Regions from separate parts of the Homo sapiens genome. Here region 2 is linked to region 1. The links come from fine-mapping of genetic effects on gene expression. A gene starts in region 1. The other region holds a variant in brackets. All regions are shown on one strand. Distances are between the middles of the regions.

Region 1 (5,386 bases):
TCAGAGAAATTTTATTTCAGTATAATTTATGAAACAAATGAACATTATTTTCTGAGGAACAATAATCTGGTAAAACATCTGAGGATTAGTCATTCTATGATTTTATTTTTCTTTTGTTGCTTTGAACTAGTTCTCTGAAGAATACTGAAATTGATAAGCAGAGCCTTTATTGCCAGGATTTGAGGCTGTCACATTTGGGTCTTCCCCTACGGTTCATAGCTGTGTATGTCAGCTTCTCAGACACATATGGAGGTACAATGACTTTGGGAATGTACAACTTGAAAACCACAAACATTTAAGTCACCTAGGAAGATGGGAAAAGTACAAAACCAGTGTATCAAATAATCTTTCCTCCCTGAAACATTTCTTTTTTGTGTTTTAGATTATGTTTTTAGGTAAAAAAAAATTTTGTTTAATATAAAAGTATATGGGAGGCTGAGGCAGGAGGATCACTTGAGATCAGCCTAGGCAATACAGGAAGATCCCATCTCTACTACTGCTACTACTACTACTACTACTAATAAATTAGCATGGGGGAGGGATAGCATTAGGAGAAATACCTAATGTAAATGATGAATTAATGGGTGCAGCAAACCAACATGGCACATGTATACATATGTAACAAACCTGCACGTTGTGCACATGTATCCTAGAACTTAAAGTATAAAAAAAGAAGAAGAAGAAAAGAAAACAAACAAAAAAAATTGGCTGAGGCTGGGAGTGGTGGTTCACACCTGTAATCCCAGCACTTTAGGAGGCCAAGGTGGGTGGATCACTTGAGGTCAGGAGTTCAAGACCAGCCTGGCCAACATGGTAAAACCCCATCTCTACTAAAAAAAAAAAAAAAAAAAAAAAAAAAAAATTGGCCAGGTGTGGTGGCGGGTGTCTGTAACTCCAGCTACTCAGGAGGCTGAGGCATGAGAATCACCTGAACTCAGGAGGTGGATGTTGTATTGAGCCAAGATCGTGCCACTGCACTCCAGCCTGGGCAACAGAGCGAGACTCTGTCTAAAAAAAAAAAAAAGAAAATAAAAAAAGAAAAAGAAAAGAAATTAGCTGGGTGTGGTGACATGCACTCGTGGTCCCAGCTACTAGGGAGGCTGAGGCAGGAGGATTGCCTGAGCCCTGGAGGTCGAGGCTGCAGTAAGCATGTTGACATCACTGCACTCCAGCCTGGGTGACACAGCAAGACCTTGTCTCCCCCCGCCAAAAAAAAACCATAAAGAAAGAAAGAAAAAAAAACCCTAAAACCACAAACATTTTGAAAACAATCCTTTCATTGATTTCTTTACACAGATATATAACTTTACACGATAAAATCATATATATATTAATTAAAGCCTAAGTGAAAATGGAATATTAAACTAAAAACTAACCATGGGCAAGACCTGATAGGTCCTAGCCTGATTCTGCTACTTCCTATGTATGTGAACTTGGGAAAACTACCTAACCTCTTTAAATCCTTCATTCCTTTATTAATTAAACAAATATTTATTGAGCACCTAATATATGCAATCCTCTGTGCTATTCCCCAGGCTCAATTGTTTCTCTATCTCTAAAAAGCCAATAAAAAAGAGTATCAGCTTTATAGGATTGTCATAATTGTTAAAATATATATGTAGTTTAGGGCATGGCCTATACAATTACAAAAATTATTGAGGGCTTGTAATTATACTATTCAAGAACCAGGAATAAGAAAAAGGGTCAAAACAGGAGTCCTTAAATGTTTGCACTAAAATTCATGCATTTATTTCACAGGTGAGCCTTCAGAACTCAGTTTCGGGCTGTTTGCTCTTCATTTACACAACATTCTTTCAAAATATGAGGATCTGCTTTCCAAATACCTAGCAGAGAGGAAAGACGGAGGTGCTGCAGTCAGCCACGACACCTGCGGAAATCGGGAAGTATAACCATAGCTTTATAACTAACCAATTATCCCTTGATGGAAAGCTGACAATTCTCCACACTATCCCAAGGAGAGAAAAAGATTTATCCTGCTCTGTGATGCACTCCCTGACCCCTCTCCCCGACGTGCTTAAGCATAAATTGTTGAGAAAAGGTTTAGGAATATCTTGTGAACAGGTAATTAAAATGAATATCATAGAATTGAACAGCTAGAATATAGTTTACAAACCCTCTCCCGTTTCCCCCCTTAAAAGTGATGTTATACTTTCCACAGTGCCTTCCAAGTTTCCCCTCGCTTATTACTGCGAACCCCCGCACCAGGAGGGGAGGCCCCTGGGGAGAGGAGGCTTTGTGGTCTAGCTCATCGCCGAATGTCCTGCTCCGGAAGTAGTCTCTGGCCTGCAAGAAACTTTTATTCAATCATTGAATGGGTGGAGTTGCTGATCTTTCCAAATCTCTCACTTTTCTACCTAGGGAACTTTCTTTTCTTTCCTGTTTGCGGCAGAATCTTTATGCTCAAGGCTGATTCCTAGGTCCCCGACCCTGCATATCCTGGTGGCAAGTAGCCACCCCCACAATCTTCCAACAGCTGGTCCCGCCTGGGCTTCCTCTCTCCAGGAATACTCTCAGTAGCCTTTCCCACGCAAGCCGGGTTCAGGGAATACCTGGGCATCGTCGACGGCCTGGCTGCCGCAAACGTCACAGGCTCGGAGTAGTGACCAGCCTAGAATCAGGCGGCGAGCTCCGCAAGGAGTCTGGGAGTGAGGCCTTCTGGGTTGCCATGGGAGCGACGTCGCGGCCGCGGTTGCGTGGGGAGACGGGCATCATGGGAAATGTAGTTTTCAGGAGTCCTTTTACATCTCATTCTCGGCCTCAAGCCTTAGGATTGCTTTTAGATCCCAAGTTAGTAACTCCTTGTTACCTCCTAGAACGAGATGATAAGGGGTTACAAACCTGGGATCTAAAAGCAATTTTCTTTTATTTTAAAATTTTTTTACTGGGTGTCAACTATATGCCAAGGGTCTCTGCTCTCTCTCTCTCTCATCTTTCACTTTTTTCTTCCCAATCGCCATGATTTAGGAATAGAGGGTGTAACAATCTCTTGAGCTGTTTTCTGCTAATTTACTAGAAGCAAGGAATATTCGGACTTTAAAATTTAAAATAAGGCACGTAATTTTAATATTTTCCAACTTTCTAGATGTTTAGTTGTTTCAAGTTTTATTCAATAGCACATTGTGTATTTATTAATAAATTAATGAAGCAAGTGCATCTCCTACATACTTCATTTACTTTGTGAATGTAGATTATTTTCTTTTGGAACTTTGTGGTCTCTTTATAGATCTGCAGGAGTGTCCAAATAAATAACGAGCATTGAAATAAATAACAATCATTGAATATGCAAGGCCCTATGCTACACAGAATAAGGAATAAAGAGATGAGTAAGAAAAGATCGCTGCCCTTAAGAAAGACACACACTCAGCTAATTATAAGCACCTAAGGAAGTGAGTGATCTAAACTATTGTATAGAGGTACAAAAATTGCATGAGGGCAAGTGACCAATTATGCCTGAAGGAGATGGTGAAACCATGGCACTGATAGTATTTGGTCTGTATTGAATGCTGAGTAGACTCAGGCTTTCTAGCCTAAGATGCCCTGAATATTTGAAGGAGATACCCTCCCTCCAGTCCTCTACTATTCGGCTTGATTTCTATGGTGCGATGTTCAAGTACATGGGCTTTGGCGTGAGATGGACCTAGGTTCAAGTTCTGACTTGGCCACGCTGGCTAAGTTGTCACATTGCCACATCGGGTAAATCACTGAATTTCTGATCCTGTAAAGCGGGAAAGATTGTGAATCTTAAATGAGATAAATGTAGGTAAAACATAACTTACGTGGGTGTCTGACACATTATAACTGCTTAATGCTTGTTATTATTGTGTGATAAGCTGCTGGTCAGCAACTTCGAACAAAGAAACACAAGGAACACATTCCTGGAAACAAGGCTGATGGTTGATAAAAGGGTGTTTATTTCAAATAAAGTCATTGGGAACAAAATCCTCCCAACACCTAGGTATATTTTGGAGACGTAAAGAACACTAAGCTGCACATAGGAAGGGAATTAATGGGAGTAGAGCTCACCGAAGAAAGGATGATTTTTCAAAGGAGGCTTATACATCTGTCATTGAATCAACAGCTATAGCCTGGTGCTAAGCCAGACTTTAAGCTCACAAACTGATATGGGACAGATTGTAATGAATTGTAATGATTTGGGTTCTAGAACTTCAGAATACTTTTGCATGCTAGTTAGGAAGGCCTGTTGATATTGATAGCAATAACGACAGCTAACATTTTTGCCAAGTGCTTGCTATGTACTGGGCACAATACTCAGTACGAGTACTTCAAAAGTACACTTGTTTGAATAACGGGGAGAGGTGTTTGAAGGAGGGAGCTTGGTAACCAGGAAAGTGAAGGTGATCCGGCTGGGCCCTGATCAGCAGCATTGATTCAGGGTTGATTCAGTTGATCTGACTGAGCAGGTGAGTTCCCCTTTCTTCCCTCATTCCTCTTGAGGCCTTCATACTTGGGCAAAGAAAGTGACTTTCCTGGGTAGATGAAGATTGTTCTTAAGGTAAGAATGGAAGGAGAAGGAGACAATTTTATGCTGCTTTCTGGATGGAATGAGCAACAGTGCAGAAGGGTAAAGGCGTGTGCAGGATGTATTTGGGAAACTGAATAGTTTGGGTTGCGATCATATAAAGTGCCTGGTGGAGCTACAGTGGAAGAGCAAACTGGGCAGGTAGATGGGGCTACTGTGAAGGATGCTGTAGTCTAGACTTTACTGTGTTGGTTATGAGAAACCAAATAGGGTTTAAAAATAGGAGTGTGCCATGATTAGACATGAATTTCAGTGAGATAATTTTTTGCAGTTGTGTGAAGGGTGGTTTGGCATCTAGAAGACCATGCGGAGGCTATTAACAATAGCTAGGAAAGTGACAGGCAGAGTTTTAAAATTTTTTCCCTTGTTTTCAAAGTTATATAAGCTAATTGTAGGGGAAAAAACGTATGCACAGAAAATTAAGAGGGTAAAATAAGCATAAGCCAGAAGTAGTAACTATTAGGTATTTTGGAAATACATTTGATATGTTTCATTCTAATCTTTTTTCTTACAAAGTTGAGATTAATTGTAAAGTTAATTAATGTCCTGATTTTAACATGTATTTCCCCATATCAAATTTTAAAAATGCACCATATCAAATTTTAAAACTGCATCATAAACATAACTTTGATGGTTGCAGAATATTTCACTGCATAGATTTTTCGTAATGTACTTAAGCATTCTCCTAATGTTGAGTACATTTGGGGTGGTTCAGAGTGAACACCTAACATGAGCTGGGTTAATCACAGTCCTTCCCTGAAATTTTTCAAACTAGAATTGGGAAAAGTAAGTCACTCTACCTCTAGAGGAAATTAGCATATTTTA
Region 2 (5,386 bases), 34 kb before region 1:
TTTGGAAAACTGACATCACACGTGACTTCAAGCTATTAAATGTTAGTGATAGCACCTTAGAAAAACACAATGGCTTTCAACATGTGACAGTTTGTGTCTCAAGTCAAAAATGGACAGTGATGTGTAAGAAAATCAAATTACATAATAACAATTCCTATTACTCTTGTGGAATAGGCTGTTTCTTCCCACCAAGTCAGTGATGTTTCTGAGATCATAATGTTCACTGTAAATTTAAAGGGATTTCTTTTTCCATAGCACTCAGCAAGAAACGTGTGCTAAAGACTGAGGTTCCTTGGAAACATGCTGAAAATTCTGTTCTCAAGGGTGTCAGAACCATACGTACTGCAAATAATTTATGAAGTCCTAGTTCATTGCAATAAGCAGATGGCTTGCTATCTGCTCAGACAGTACTCCCTTGGGGTAGTAAATGTGCTTATCTGAAGCTGGGAGTCAATATATTTTGTATGTGGACATGGAAGAACATAGAATAAATCATTTTTAATCATAGCAATTATACTTACTCAAAATGAACTTGGCTAGCAGGTACACACATCTACAGATTGGAATGGCTTCTTAAAGGCTATCCCACCTTGGAAATAATCCTGGTTATCCGCAACACATGATGTTTTGTCCTGCTTCTTGATAGGATATCTCCTTAGATGTGCCTGTTCTTCAAAAAGTGGTATTTAAAATAAATGTGTCAGTCTCACAGCAGGGTGAAATTGGTGCTGATTAAAAATGCCCCATTCCAGACCACTGATGGCGACACTCTAGGTGTGGGGACCTGGGAATGTGCATCTCCTATTTCAGGTGCTTCTTGCGCCTCACTGTTAAGAGTAAAATTTTGACATCTGTGAACCCAATTCCGGTTTCCTCCCAGCTACAGCTGAGAATGCCTTTTAGAAAGAATGTGTCTAACGTGGGCACTTAACCTTGCATTTAAAACTGTAACCAAATACTCTTACTTTTATATTCCTAAAAACATATAAGCAGAAACTTATACATGCTGAATTGAGTATATACCACTTAAACATGTTAGAGGTAGGTAGTAGAAGATTCTTTTATTTTAAAAAAAATTACACGTGGTTCTACAATAATTTTTCCTTTTAAAAAGCTTCAAGATATACAGGGAGATGCACTAGTCCAAGAAATCCAGCTTGTCCTTTAACAAATTATACAGTTTAACTTTCTTCACATATTGCCACAATAGTTAATTCACAGTATAATCTTATTTGTATTTGGAAAAGAAGAAATAAATATACAATAATTGAAATAGGTTCAAGAATCAAGCTCGATTTGTTTCCAAGACTTGGAAGAACTTCTTTTGTACTGTTCCAGTTCCTAAAACAAAAATATGTATCACTTTAAGAAAAATCAACTTTACTAATTCAAGGAGGCACCTTAAAACTGCCTTCTCATTTTTTAGATATATCAATGAATCCTTAGTAGCATTATCATTCTAAATATTTCTTGCCAATTATTTTGTAAATGATTATGCTTAGGACTTATTTTCTAGAAATACTGTCTTCAGAGTTTCTGTGTGGCTAAGCAGCACTCAGAGATGAATTTATTAAACTTTCAGACAAAATTATGTACATAAACTACATAATACATATGAATTGTCTTTCAACTAATGAACTAGACATCTGTCATCCTTCAAGTATTCAAAAGTGATCTTATTTTAATTGTTTGCTGTTCAGCTCTAATCAAAAACTTGGTTGAAGTTAGCAAAATATTTAAAAAATACATACCCAGGCTGGGTGCGGTGGCTCATTCCTATAGTCCCAGCACTTTGGGAGGCTGGGGCAGGAGAATTGCTTGAGCCCAGGAATTTGAGACCAGCCTGGGCAACATAGGGAGACCGTGTCTCTACAAAAACTGAGAAAAATAATTATCCAGGCATGGTGGTGTGCGCTGTGGTCCCAGCTACTTGGGAGTCTGAGGTGGGAGGATCGCTTGAACCTGGGAGGCCAAGGCTGCAGTAAACTGTGATTGCGCCACTGCACTCCAGCCTGGGTGACAGAGTGAGATCCTGTCACAAAAAAGTGTGTGTGTGTGTGTGTGTGTGTGTGTGTGTGTGTATCCTTTGTCCCAGTGATTTTACTTTTAGAAATTTATCATCCATAACAATAGAGCAATGCACAAGGATGTAAAAGAAGGAAACCCATTGCTCTGTCTCAGCACAACTGGAAACAACTTTGATGTCCCCCAGTAAGGACTGATTAAATAATTAGCGTTCATTCACAGGTGGCTTCCAAGGCAGCCAGCAAAAATAACAGTGGCCACATGAAAACATAATGTGTGCCACATGAAAAAAGCACACAGATAGGGAGAGGGCAGGATACTTCCATTTTCTATTTTATATACATCTATCTATAGCTCTTGAATTTTTTCACAAGGAGTATATCTTACCTTTACAATTCATAAATAAATTTTAGTGGAGGTGGCTATCCTGCACAAGGCAACTGACATGTAAAAGGGACCATCTAAGGGGATGCCTCTTGGCCTCCTACATGTTGTTCAATGTCTAAATAACTGTACAAAGGTTGTCACTACTTCAAATAAAACGTGGTTACTCTGCAAGATGAGGCAATCAATGCCCTTTGGCTAACATAACTGAAGTTCACAGTTGCTATGAAAAGAAAATCCATTCTAATTTTCAGAAAAATTGCAGAGCGTAC[C/G]TTTCATACCTATACCCTAAGTTACTAAAATTTAAATGTTAAATGTTTCAAAATGGTATATAGACTTAGGAAGAATTTTTCCTTGTGTGTTTTTTTTTTTCCTTTAACTTCCTCATTGGATTCTAGGAAGAATTTTCATGGTAATAATCATATGTAGTCTTTACAGCTTGTTTTATTTTTTTCTAATAAAGCTAATTCAGTTCACCAGTTATCTACCACTTGCGGTTTTAAAGATTAACTCATAAAGAATAAACAAATTGTTTACTGCAAACTTTGTCTTTAACTGGAAGTTAAATTATTTTTACCAATGACAAAGGTGAAAATGTTGTTTTGAGATTCTTTGCTGGTAGTATCTCCCTTTTGCAGACAGCAGACTGTGAGAAAACTAGGGCTATCACACAGGCCATGCCAGAGGGAGAAAAAGGAATAACCAATATGAGACAAAAACCACCAAGTCCACTAGATCTTCAACATGACAATGATACGGCCTCAAAATAATGCATTGATGTTTTAAAGGGATAGCAAGTAAAGTTTTCCGAAGATAACTGTGGTTGGCCAAGAAGACCTTAAAAATAAATGTTAACTGTAACCTTTTTTTTTTTTTTTTTTTTTTTTTTTTTTGCTTTAACAAAAATAATAGAAAAGAAGCTGGGCACAGTGGCTCATGCCTGTAATCCCAGCACTTTGGGAGGCCAACTCAGGAGGATTGCTTTAGGCGAGGAGTTGAAGACCAGCCTGGGCAACAAAAAACAAAAAAATTACCCGGGCATGGTGATGTGTGCCTGTAGTCCCAGCTACTTGAGAGGCTGAGATGGGAGGATCCCTTGAGCCCTGGAGTTCAAGGTTGCAGTGAGCCATGATCTCCCCATTGCACTCCAGCCTGGATGCCAGAGCAAGACACAGTATCAAAGAAAAAGAAAAAAACACAAAAGAGGTAGAAGGGCTCAGCAAGTGCTTTCCACATTCGCATTCCCTTAAAATCGGGAATGCTCTAAAGCTAGAGGACTTTTAAAAAACAGAAAATACTACTTAAGTATTTTCTGGTGCCCATGTGAAGTCTGGCAAAAGACAGAACTTTAAATAATTAAAGAGGGCTAATCACGAAAGACCCTAAGTCTGCAGGAAAGATGAAAGGGGTCTTCCTACCAATCCTCAGATCCTTGAGGACTGACTTCACAGCACACAATTGGAAACAACTTAAGGTCTCACAACTACTCATGAAATAGTATGAAATAATATTCAAATTAAAAATTTTATATAGTAGAATGTCAAAATTTAGATTCGGATTATCAATGAAATAACAGCAACAACACTGGTAATTGTTAGGGTATCTTTACAGCTAAAGCATAAAATTATGTTAAGGTCCTGTGTGTGCAATCTGGAATCAATTCGTCTAAAACCACACAAATAAAAGTGGTTTAGAGGCAAACTTAGGACAGCATAACTTTTCAGGTAGGTTAAAAAAAAATCTCGAACCAAGAGATGACAGGAATTGGTGATCTGCTGGCAGTGAGATACAAGAGATGAATGAAGGGTGATATGGGTACTGTGGGGCTGCCTTCCTTTTCCACACAAAATTCTTATGGTTTTAAGTCATTTAGAGAAGACAGATTTGAATGTGAAAACTCATGATGCTCACAAATACCCTAATCCTTTAATAATACTGATGTATATGAACTTAATAAAAGTGATCATTATACAATATAAACAGATATTCTTATCAACAACAACAGTTAATCATTGACTCCTAGATAAATATTAATCAGGGATGACTTCCAACTAATCCTTATAGCCAGGCTGCAAACATAATAAGGGTTACATAAGGTCATTTTCCTGTTTCTACAACATGCCTCTCACTTTGCTACAGCTATAAAACCTCTAAATATTCATGGCATATTTTTCAAAAGTCTTCTGGACCGTTTACATAAAATGTTTTGCTTACTTCTCCAACAGCCCCCGAAGGTGAATACTGAGAAAAAAACCCTGGCTCCTACTCCCAGCTGACAGCTGTTTTCAGGTTACCCTCGCAACAACGTGACTGCCACCTGAGAAGTTGCTGGGGCTTTCGATCTAGTGCTTAGCATATATAAGTTTACTCATATAAGGACAGATTCTGTACAACGTCTCATTTTATCAAATAAAACTAAAATCTAAGTTTGCTTGTTTGTTTTTAGAAAAATCTAGGCCAGGCGCACTGGCTCATGCCTGTAATCCCAGCACTTTGGGAGGCCAAGGCGGATGGATCACGAGGTCAGGAGTTCAAGACCAGCCTGGCCAAGATGGTGAAACCCCGTTTCTACTAAAAAAGCAAAAAAAATTAGCCAGGTGTGGTGGCAGGCACCTGTAATCCCAGCCACTCAGGAGGCTGAAGCAGAGAATTGCTTGAACCCGGGAGGCGGAGGTTGTAGTGAGCCGAGGTCATGCCACTGCACTCCAGCCTGGGCGACAGTGTGAGACTCGTCTTAAAAAAAAAAGAAAAAGAAAAAGAAAAGAAAAATCTAAGTATTTGAGTGATGGTGAATTTGCCAACTCTTAACATTCTTACATCAGACTTGTGTGTTCAAATGGGGCTATCTAGTGATACATGGGATGGTGGTGTCCACTTTTAAGCATTTTCCTGAGAGAACCTGGGTTATGTCAGGTATGTCTGTGTGCTTTCAGATCGTGCTTTCAGTCCTTAACTGGGCAAGATACGTTTTCTAGTA

The links. PIP is the estimated chance that this variant, and not a neighbour inherited with it, causes the effect. A credible set is the group of variants that fine-mapping cannot tell apart.
Region 2: its variant is the best candidate, but not a certain one, in a credible set for the expression of DYNC2LI1 in tibial nerve (GTEx, PIP 0.51).

The regions. Positions count from the first base shown.
Region 1 is chr2:43,771,331-43,776,716 of GRCh38, reverse strand. It overlaps DYNC2LI1 (dynein cytoplasmic 2 light intermediate chain 1), which reads right to left and starts at 2,678. Exons shown (of 13, transcript NM_016008.4): 1 at 2,571-2,678. The coding sequence starts at 2,578. LOC105374571 (a long non-coding RNA gene) reads right to left here and starts at 2,564. Exons shown (of 2, transcript XR_940033.2): 1 at 2,171-2,564; 2 at 1,725-1,844. It also overlaps the pseudogene RN7SKP66. RefSeq lists an enhancer at 2,743-2,792.
Region 2 is chr2:43,805,660-43,811,045 of GRCh38, reverse strand. It overlaps DYNC2LI1 (dynein cytoplasmic 2 light intermediate chain 1), which reads right to left. Exons shown (of 13, transcript NM_016008.4): 13 at 1,036-1,341. The coding sequence ends at 1,279. It also overlaps a transcript of ABCG5 not described here. Among named protein-coding and RNA genes, the nearest start is that of ABCG5, 30 kb to the left of the region's middle. The variant C/G (reference allele first, on the strand shown) is at 2,682.